2 linked regions of the Homo sapiens genome follow. The protein of the gene in region 2 interacts with the protein of the main gene of each other region in a biochemical or structural test. Each region holds a gene or a part of one and is shown on either strand. Other genes may lie near its edges.

Region 1 (4,035 bases), about 88 Mb from region 2:
AAAAAAAAAAAAAAGAAACGTACCAAAATGTTCATAACGTTTGTCTTTGCGTGATAGAAATAGGAAATTTTGATTTCTATTTTTAATATTTTCTAATATTCTACAATGATCATGGATTATTTTTTATAATTGAGGCAAAACAATTTCAGAAGGCAAAAGAGAAATAATAAAGAAAACCTTTTCTATCTGTAAATTTAACCATGAAATTGAACAAACCTAAAGAGAAATGTTCTTACCGTTCCACAGGAACCAGCTTCTTCCACTGGGCCACTAGGTCCCTGGCAAAGCTTCCAACATGCTCGTGTTTTCGCAAGCTATTTACTGTTTTCCCAACCCCAGTCTCCTAAAATTTGACAAAGTAATTGTTAGAGGGGTCTGGAACTAGGCTAACGTTTTTCTAAAGAAATAAGGCTTTCTACTTTGAGAAACTCAACAAGCAATACTTCCTTCCTACAACATACCCTGCAAATCTTAACACTAAATTACTTTGTGTCTATGCCCCAAATCTCTAATGACACACAGTAGCAAAGCGTACCAAGTTCAGAACTTTAATAACAAGAGTGATTAGGGCAGGTGTTAGGCACTAAGATAAGAGCTTTGCATACAGTTCTGAATCAGTCTTTACAATAACCCTGTGAAGCAGGAATCAGACCCATTTTACATAGGAACAGCCTAAAGTCATAGAACTCAGATTTGAATCTGGGACTAATTGATGCCAAAGTCAATGTTCTTTTAATTCTAATTTTGAAATAAAGTCATTTAACAATATTCACCACTTTAACTAAAGTACATAATTCAGTGGTTTCCAGAACATTCACAATATTATATAACCATTATAACCATCTAATTCCAGAACATTTACATTACCCTAAAAAGAAATCCTGTTCCTCCCAATTCTCCTAGCCCCTGGCAACCACTAATCTACTTTCTGTCTATGGATTTGCCTATTCTGGACATTTCATATAAATGGAATCAGACAATATATGGCCTTTTGTGTCTGGTTTCTTTCACTTCCAAAGCCCATACTTGTAACCTTATTCTACACACTCTCCAGTGAGAAGGGAATGGGATATCATTATATAATATTTAAAGTCACACAGTTCTTACCGCAAGAATGTCTACTGTAATAGGCAGGGTGGAGAGTTTCTTCAAATATTTCAATAGCTGCAGAGAAGAAAACATTAATTTCAATAGTCAAATTCACTTTAACAAGAATATCTGATTATTAAGTGCTTAGTGCTAACCATTTACAGTAATGAGTATAAGTATTATGCCTATTTACAGTAGTAAGTAATATCCCTATTTTACAAGTATGAAAATAGGCTCATAAAAGTTATGTTTCTTGTCCCAAGATGCAAGTGGGGCAAGATTCACTCAGGTCTGTGGCTTTAGATTCCCTGCTTTCAACCACTGTGCTACACCAAGGGGAAATAAGATGTAGAGAAGAGAATCAAAACTTACCAACTCTGATAAAAGCCATCAACAACTATCATTTTTGCCCTAGTTTTGATAGAATTTATGAGAAAGGTACCAATTTTAGGGGAATTACCCATGGACCTGGCACAGAGGAAGTAAAAGGAAGAAAAGGCCTCTACAGGAAAAGACCATCATGTTTCCAGAAGGGCCACAGTGTTTAACAGAATTGTTTTCTTCTACATAAGTGTAAAGCCAAGAGTAATTTCAAGTTGCCAGAATCAGAGCTTGGATGTTAACGGTGGACACAAAATGCCTGGGTAGATTAGAAAAGTGATCTGGGTTTGATCACATTTCCTTCCTATAGTTCCTAAAACTAGGTCAAAATCAGTACAGCAGAGCTGTTAAGATGGAGTTCTGGAGTCAGAGACAGGCTTGACAATCTGGCTTTGTCACTCGATGAGTGATCTTGAATAAGTCAAAAACCTCCCCAAACTTCAGTTACTTCATCTGCAAAATAGGAACTTGGTCCTGTCTCTACTTCACAAACTATGAGGATTCAGAGACAAACCATGTGCAGTCCTTAGTCATAGTGTCTAGAACACTATGAAAGCTCACTAAATACTTATCATTTCATTCATCGACTGACAGCTTTCAGCGTTCTGCCCTTGATCTTCAACCAGATATTCCTCAGCCAATTCCTACTTGCTCTAACAAAAGTTATGACTGGCCAAACCTTTCTCTAGGAAATGTCTACGTGTATCTAAACATACTTACCATACAAGGAGTGCTTCAAAATACAAGTAGTTTAAAATAGATAACTGTGGTTACCTTTGCATTTAAATATTATATAACAAGATCTGCTTTTACCATGTGTGGCCCAGACTATAATTGGTATGCCATATTGCTATTAGGTGGAGTAACAAGTCTGTTTTTCTGGTCATTCTACTTCAATCATTACTTAACATGGTCACCAGACAGAGCAATTGGATCACAAGTGATAATCTTGAGATCAAGTAAGAGGCCAAGTGGCATATCTAGGGAGTCTCACCTTCATAGATGAGTGAAAATTATCCCCCACTTCAAATCCTATCACCACCATCATCCAACTCAGGAAAAATTTTGTGTTTCTTGCCACCCAAGCTATGGGTGCAAAGACTAATGCCAATTCCTTCACTTAAAGGAAAATTTTAAATCACTGAAAAGGTCAAAAACAAGTGGTTCTCTCATAATGCCATTCCTTGGAAGGGGTAGGTTGGGAATATTCACATACCATCTATTGTGTGTCAGCTACTACACTAAGCTCTTACACGTTACCTCATTTCATTCCCACTAACCAACTCTATAAAGTGGATGTTATTCTCCCCATTTGACAGATATTGCAACTGAACCCAATCAGGTTAGGTAACTTGCTTAACAAGCTGGAAAGTCAAATGTGTCTACTACAGTTAAGTAAAGCCAGGAGAAGCATCCAACATCAGAACACTGTCCTTAGGAAATGAAAATAGAGCGGCAGCACATATACTTCTTAGCATACTTGCAAGAAAGCAGAAAAACTCCTCCTGTGATGTCATTAGACAGTTCAGAACCCACATAGTAAAGGAGGTCACCAAGGGAACAAAGGTGTCCCAGGACCTCTACAAAGCCAACATATAAGGATGAGGCTGGAAGTCACTGTGGGTGTGTTTATCTCAAAGCCTAGCACTAACTGGAAGAACAAATCCTGTCTTTCTGCTTTACTTTGGGTTATTAGGGGTGATTTAAAAGCAGACAAAACTAAAACCCTCAAGATTTTCAGACTCATTTAGTCTAACACAAGAGAAAAAAGGACTTCACAACCCCTCTATTTTCAGTAAATTTCAAGAAAGAACAAAGCAATAACAAGGCAAAGGCACATTGGGCATCCTCAGGTGGATCGAAACTTGCTGTTATCAAACAAGATACCAACTATAGAGCTTGTAAGAACTGGTAACAGGCAACTGAGAAATATCAAACATTTGCAAGGTACATGTTGAGGCATCTCAGTTGTCCCCTGTACAATCCTTCAACCCAAAAAAGCAAAAAATATTTTTAATGTCACCTGCCATCAAAATGTTCTTGGTAGCTTTCACAGTGAAAATGTAACACAGGACGAGGATCCTTTTTTTTTTTTTTTTTTTTTTTGGAGATGGAGTTTTGCTCTTGTTGTCCAGGCTGGAGTGCAATGGTGCCATCTCGGCTCACTGCAACCTCCGCCTCCTGGGTTCAAGAGATTCTCCTGTCTCAGCCTCCCGAGTAGCTGGGATTACAGGCACCACCACCATGACCAACTAATTTTTTTATTTTTAGTAGAGATGGGGTTTCATCATGTTGGCCAGGCTGGTCTCGAACTCTTGACCTCAGATGATCCGCCCCTCTTGGCCTCCCAAAGTGCTGTGATTACAAGCGTGAGCCACTGCGCCCGGCCAACTGTGTGTGTGTGTTTTTTTTGTTTTTTTTTTTTTGAGACGGAGTTTCGCTCTTGTTGCCCAGGCTGGAGTGCAATGGCGCGATCTCAGCTCGCTGCAACCTCTGCCTCCCGGGTTCGAGTGTTCTCCTGCCTCAGCCTCCCGAGCAGCTGGGATTACAGGCGCCTGCCACCAC
Region 2 (3,500 bases):
TCAAAAGCAATCCTTTCCTATTAAAGTTTAATCTTTTTAAAAAATATTCTTGGCTACTAGCCTTTTATAACCTCCACCCCACCCAATATATTTGACATAGAAAATACTGAAAATTTTCCACAACTCTGGCTGGTCTTCTACAGAATATTTTTTGTCAAGACCAAGTACCTAATTTTTTTTCCCTTTTAAATAGACTTTATTAGAGCAGTTTTAGTTTCACAGCAAAACTGAGGGGAAGGTGCAGAGATTTCCCACATACTCCTTGCCACCACAAATGCATAGCCTCACCCCACCATCAACATCCTGCACCAGAGTGGTACATTTGTTACAACTGATGAACCCACATGAACACATCGTTATCACCAAGAGTCCACAGTTTACATTAGGATTTTCTTTTGGCATGGTACATTCTATGGGTTTTGACAAATGTATGGCATATAACCCAATTATAGTATTACACAGACTCTAATTTTTTGGTAGTCTAAAGATATCTTTAAACTTATAAAACTAAACAAAAATAAAAATGTTCAGTCACTGGATAACTTCAAGCATAAAGGTGGTCTTAATTGTTGGTAACAAAAGAGTAAGTTGAAAACACACCTACTATTTATATGCAATTTTTTCATATGTGGCAACATTCCCCACCAGGAAAATGTCCACATTAAGGAACAAGTCACTAATCAGTAACAGAACATAGAGCTCTGAATATCAAAGTAGTATTCTGTTAAGAAATGTTCTGTCTTGATGAAACTTTTAAAAACAGATGCACAATATTTGTATTATTTCTCAAAACTATTTTCAAAAAGCAAATCTACAGATCAAATTTTAACATCATAAGGAACTACTTGTAAGCATGTGTGTACAAGTTTCACATTTTACCTTTCTGTAGGAATCTTCTATCGTTGGGTCATATTTTTCAACAAAAATTCCCTGAACAAACTGAACTGTCTGGGGGAAAAAAAAAGAGAAATATTAAAAAATTAAAGGAAAACTCCTTTGAATGTTACTTAACCTACAAATTATAATGATTAATTGAAATTATGTGAAAATTCTGGGTAAACACGTAAATGTAAAGTATATTATTAATTCTTTCAATATAAGGATACATCCATAACTAAGAGTACATTTATTATGAAAGGAGGTAGTCATGTTAAAAACTGTCATCAATACTGATAATACACTGTTAATTACATTAAGTCTTAATATACAAGGATACAAATAACATATCTGAACTAATTAAAACATGAAAAATTATCAATATTTAAACTCCTATTGCCCCTTTATATATCTATAGTAACTTTTATCCCATGCCCTCTGCCCTTAATGGAGTGACAAAGGTTCTAATTTTTTTTTAAACACAGGGTCTTTGCTATGTTGCCTGGGCTGGCCTTGAACTCCTGAACTCAAGAGATCCTCCCGCCTCAGCCTCCCAGGTAGCTGGACCTCAAGCAGCATCTTGTAAATTTGTTAAAGCCTTTCTAAATTGTGGTGGAAAAGAGAAAGGGAAATTTAAACTTACTGAATGTCTATTATGTTCCAGACATTAAGCTAGTCACTTTTAATTTATAACCACATTCAAATTTCACATTTGTCCCAGAAATAGTTATTCTTCCTATTTGCCAGCTGAGATTCAAACATACATCTTCCTGATTCCAAAGCCTTACTTTTTCCATTGGAAAATATTGCCCATTCATCTTTTTCAGATATTATCAACTTTTAAAGGCATCCAAAAGCACATACTAGAAAATACGTATTTATCATTCAGTAAGTGAAAAAAGTACAGAAGACGGTTTTAAGATATTTCCTAGGTAACTTTAAAACAGGGTCTGGTACATTATTGCCTAAAAAGCAAGGGTAAGAATGTGGACTGAGGTCATCTACACTTAAATTACTCAGAGGAATATTTGATATACTATTTTAGCTTGAGCTAAAGAGATTAACTCAAATATAGTAAACAAACTTCTTTCTCCTACTAAGCTTCTATTATTCAAAGGCAACTCAAGATATAATCACACCAAAAACCTTAATCATGATTTTTATCAAGGATTTAATCACCTCATCTTCTAAGTACGACACATAATTTAAATATACAAAGCAGTCTACGCTGGATGCAGTGGCTCATGCTGTACTCCTAGCACTTTAGGAGGCCAAGGCAGGAGGATTGCTTGAGCTCAGGAATTTGAAACCAACCTGGGCAACATAGTGAGACTGTCTCTACAAAAAATTTAAAAATTTAACCAGGTGTGGTGGCATGCACCTGTAGTCCCAGCTACTTGGGTAGCTAAGGTGGGAGGATTGCTTAAGTGTAGGAGGTTGAAGATGCAGTGAGCCATGATCACGCCACTGCACTCCAGGGCAAGATGCTGATTCAAGATTTAAAAAAAAAAAAAAGGCAGTCTAATACAGCTTCCTAATATGCTTTAGGCTAGAGCAGAGAGTCTCAAAATATGGTCCAAGGCAGAGGCTCCCTAAGGTCAAACTATCTTCCTAACAATACTAAGATGTATTCTAAGAGGTACTCTTCTTCTTCTCTCATAAGTTTACAGTGGAATCTTCCAAAGGGTATAGAACATGTGCTATTGAAAGAGACTGGATACAGAAGCAGGCAAAAGAGCCCATGTGCCTTCTATAAGCCAGACATTAATAAGACTTGCAAAAATGCAAAACAATCCAACGTTTCTCATTTCTTTCTTACTAAAAGTAATGTTTGACTACTCCTCTGAATCTTATCCTCTGTCTTAATTTTCAGGGACATCTCATTCATTCATTCACATAGATTATAATTTTATTCCTCAGGTTTTTGTACTGGATCATCTCCTCTTTCCCTCTCCTGTATCCTTATTTTCCTCTCCAGTGGAGAGGAATTGCCCCCAGCATACAAATATGCTTTACTATCTCCAATTCTAAAACAAAAACAAAAACCTCCCTTAACCCCAATATCTCTCCAGCTTCTGCCCCCATTCTCTGTCCCCTCTCATAATCAAGCTTCTTCAAATGTCTATATTCCATTTCCTCAGCTCTCATTTAATCTTCAACCCACCCCATTATGGTTATGGCAACATGACCTGACTAAAGCTGCTTCCTTTATCATGTCCAACTGCCTCTATGCTCTCTGATCATCTCTTTCCTCTTTTTTACTTGACTTTTGAGGAATCAAGTAAAGACACCTTCTTCTATGCTAGATCCTCCAATCCTATCTACTTTCTAAAGGTTGAGAGGTACTCAGAGCTCAGTCCTGGGCTCTGCTCTTCTCTCTCTAGTATCTCCCTAGACCTCTTTCACTCCTATGGACTTTTTCCAAAATTATTTTTGAAAAGGTAATTCATGGACATAGGACTAAATTCAAAAAGGCACAAAAGGCTATGCAGTGATAACTAAGCTTATCTACCACCCTTGTTCCCAGCTATCCAATCCTACTCCCAAGAAAGTAACTGATGTTATTCATAGCTTATTTAACCTTGAAGAGATACTCTATGATTTTACAGGTATCTACCCTCAGC

Evidence for each region.
Region 1: the proteins of RAP1A (region 2) and ELOA form a complex in vitro, tested with the Homo sapiens proteins (one study listed by BioGRID).

What each region holds. Positions count from the first base shown.
Region 1 is NC_000001.11:23,746,150-23,750,184, reverse strand, and holds part of ELOA (elongin-A), read right to left. Parts: intron 1,165-4,035; coding exon 1,108-1,164; intron 344-1,107; coding exon 237-343; intron 1-236. UniProt on the Homo sapiens protein: SIII, also known as elongin, is a general transcription elongation factor that increases the RNA polymerase II transcription elongation past template-encoded arresting sites.
Region 2 is NC_000001.11:111,692,789-111,696,288, reverse strand, and holds part of RAP1A (ras-related protein Rap-1A precursor), read right to left. Parts: intron 949-3,500; coding exon 880-948; intron 1-879. UniProt on the Homo sapiens protein: Counteracts the mitogenic function of Ras, at least partly because it can interact with Ras GAPs and RAF in a competitive manner. Together with ITGB1BP1, regulates KRIT1 localization to microtubules and membranes.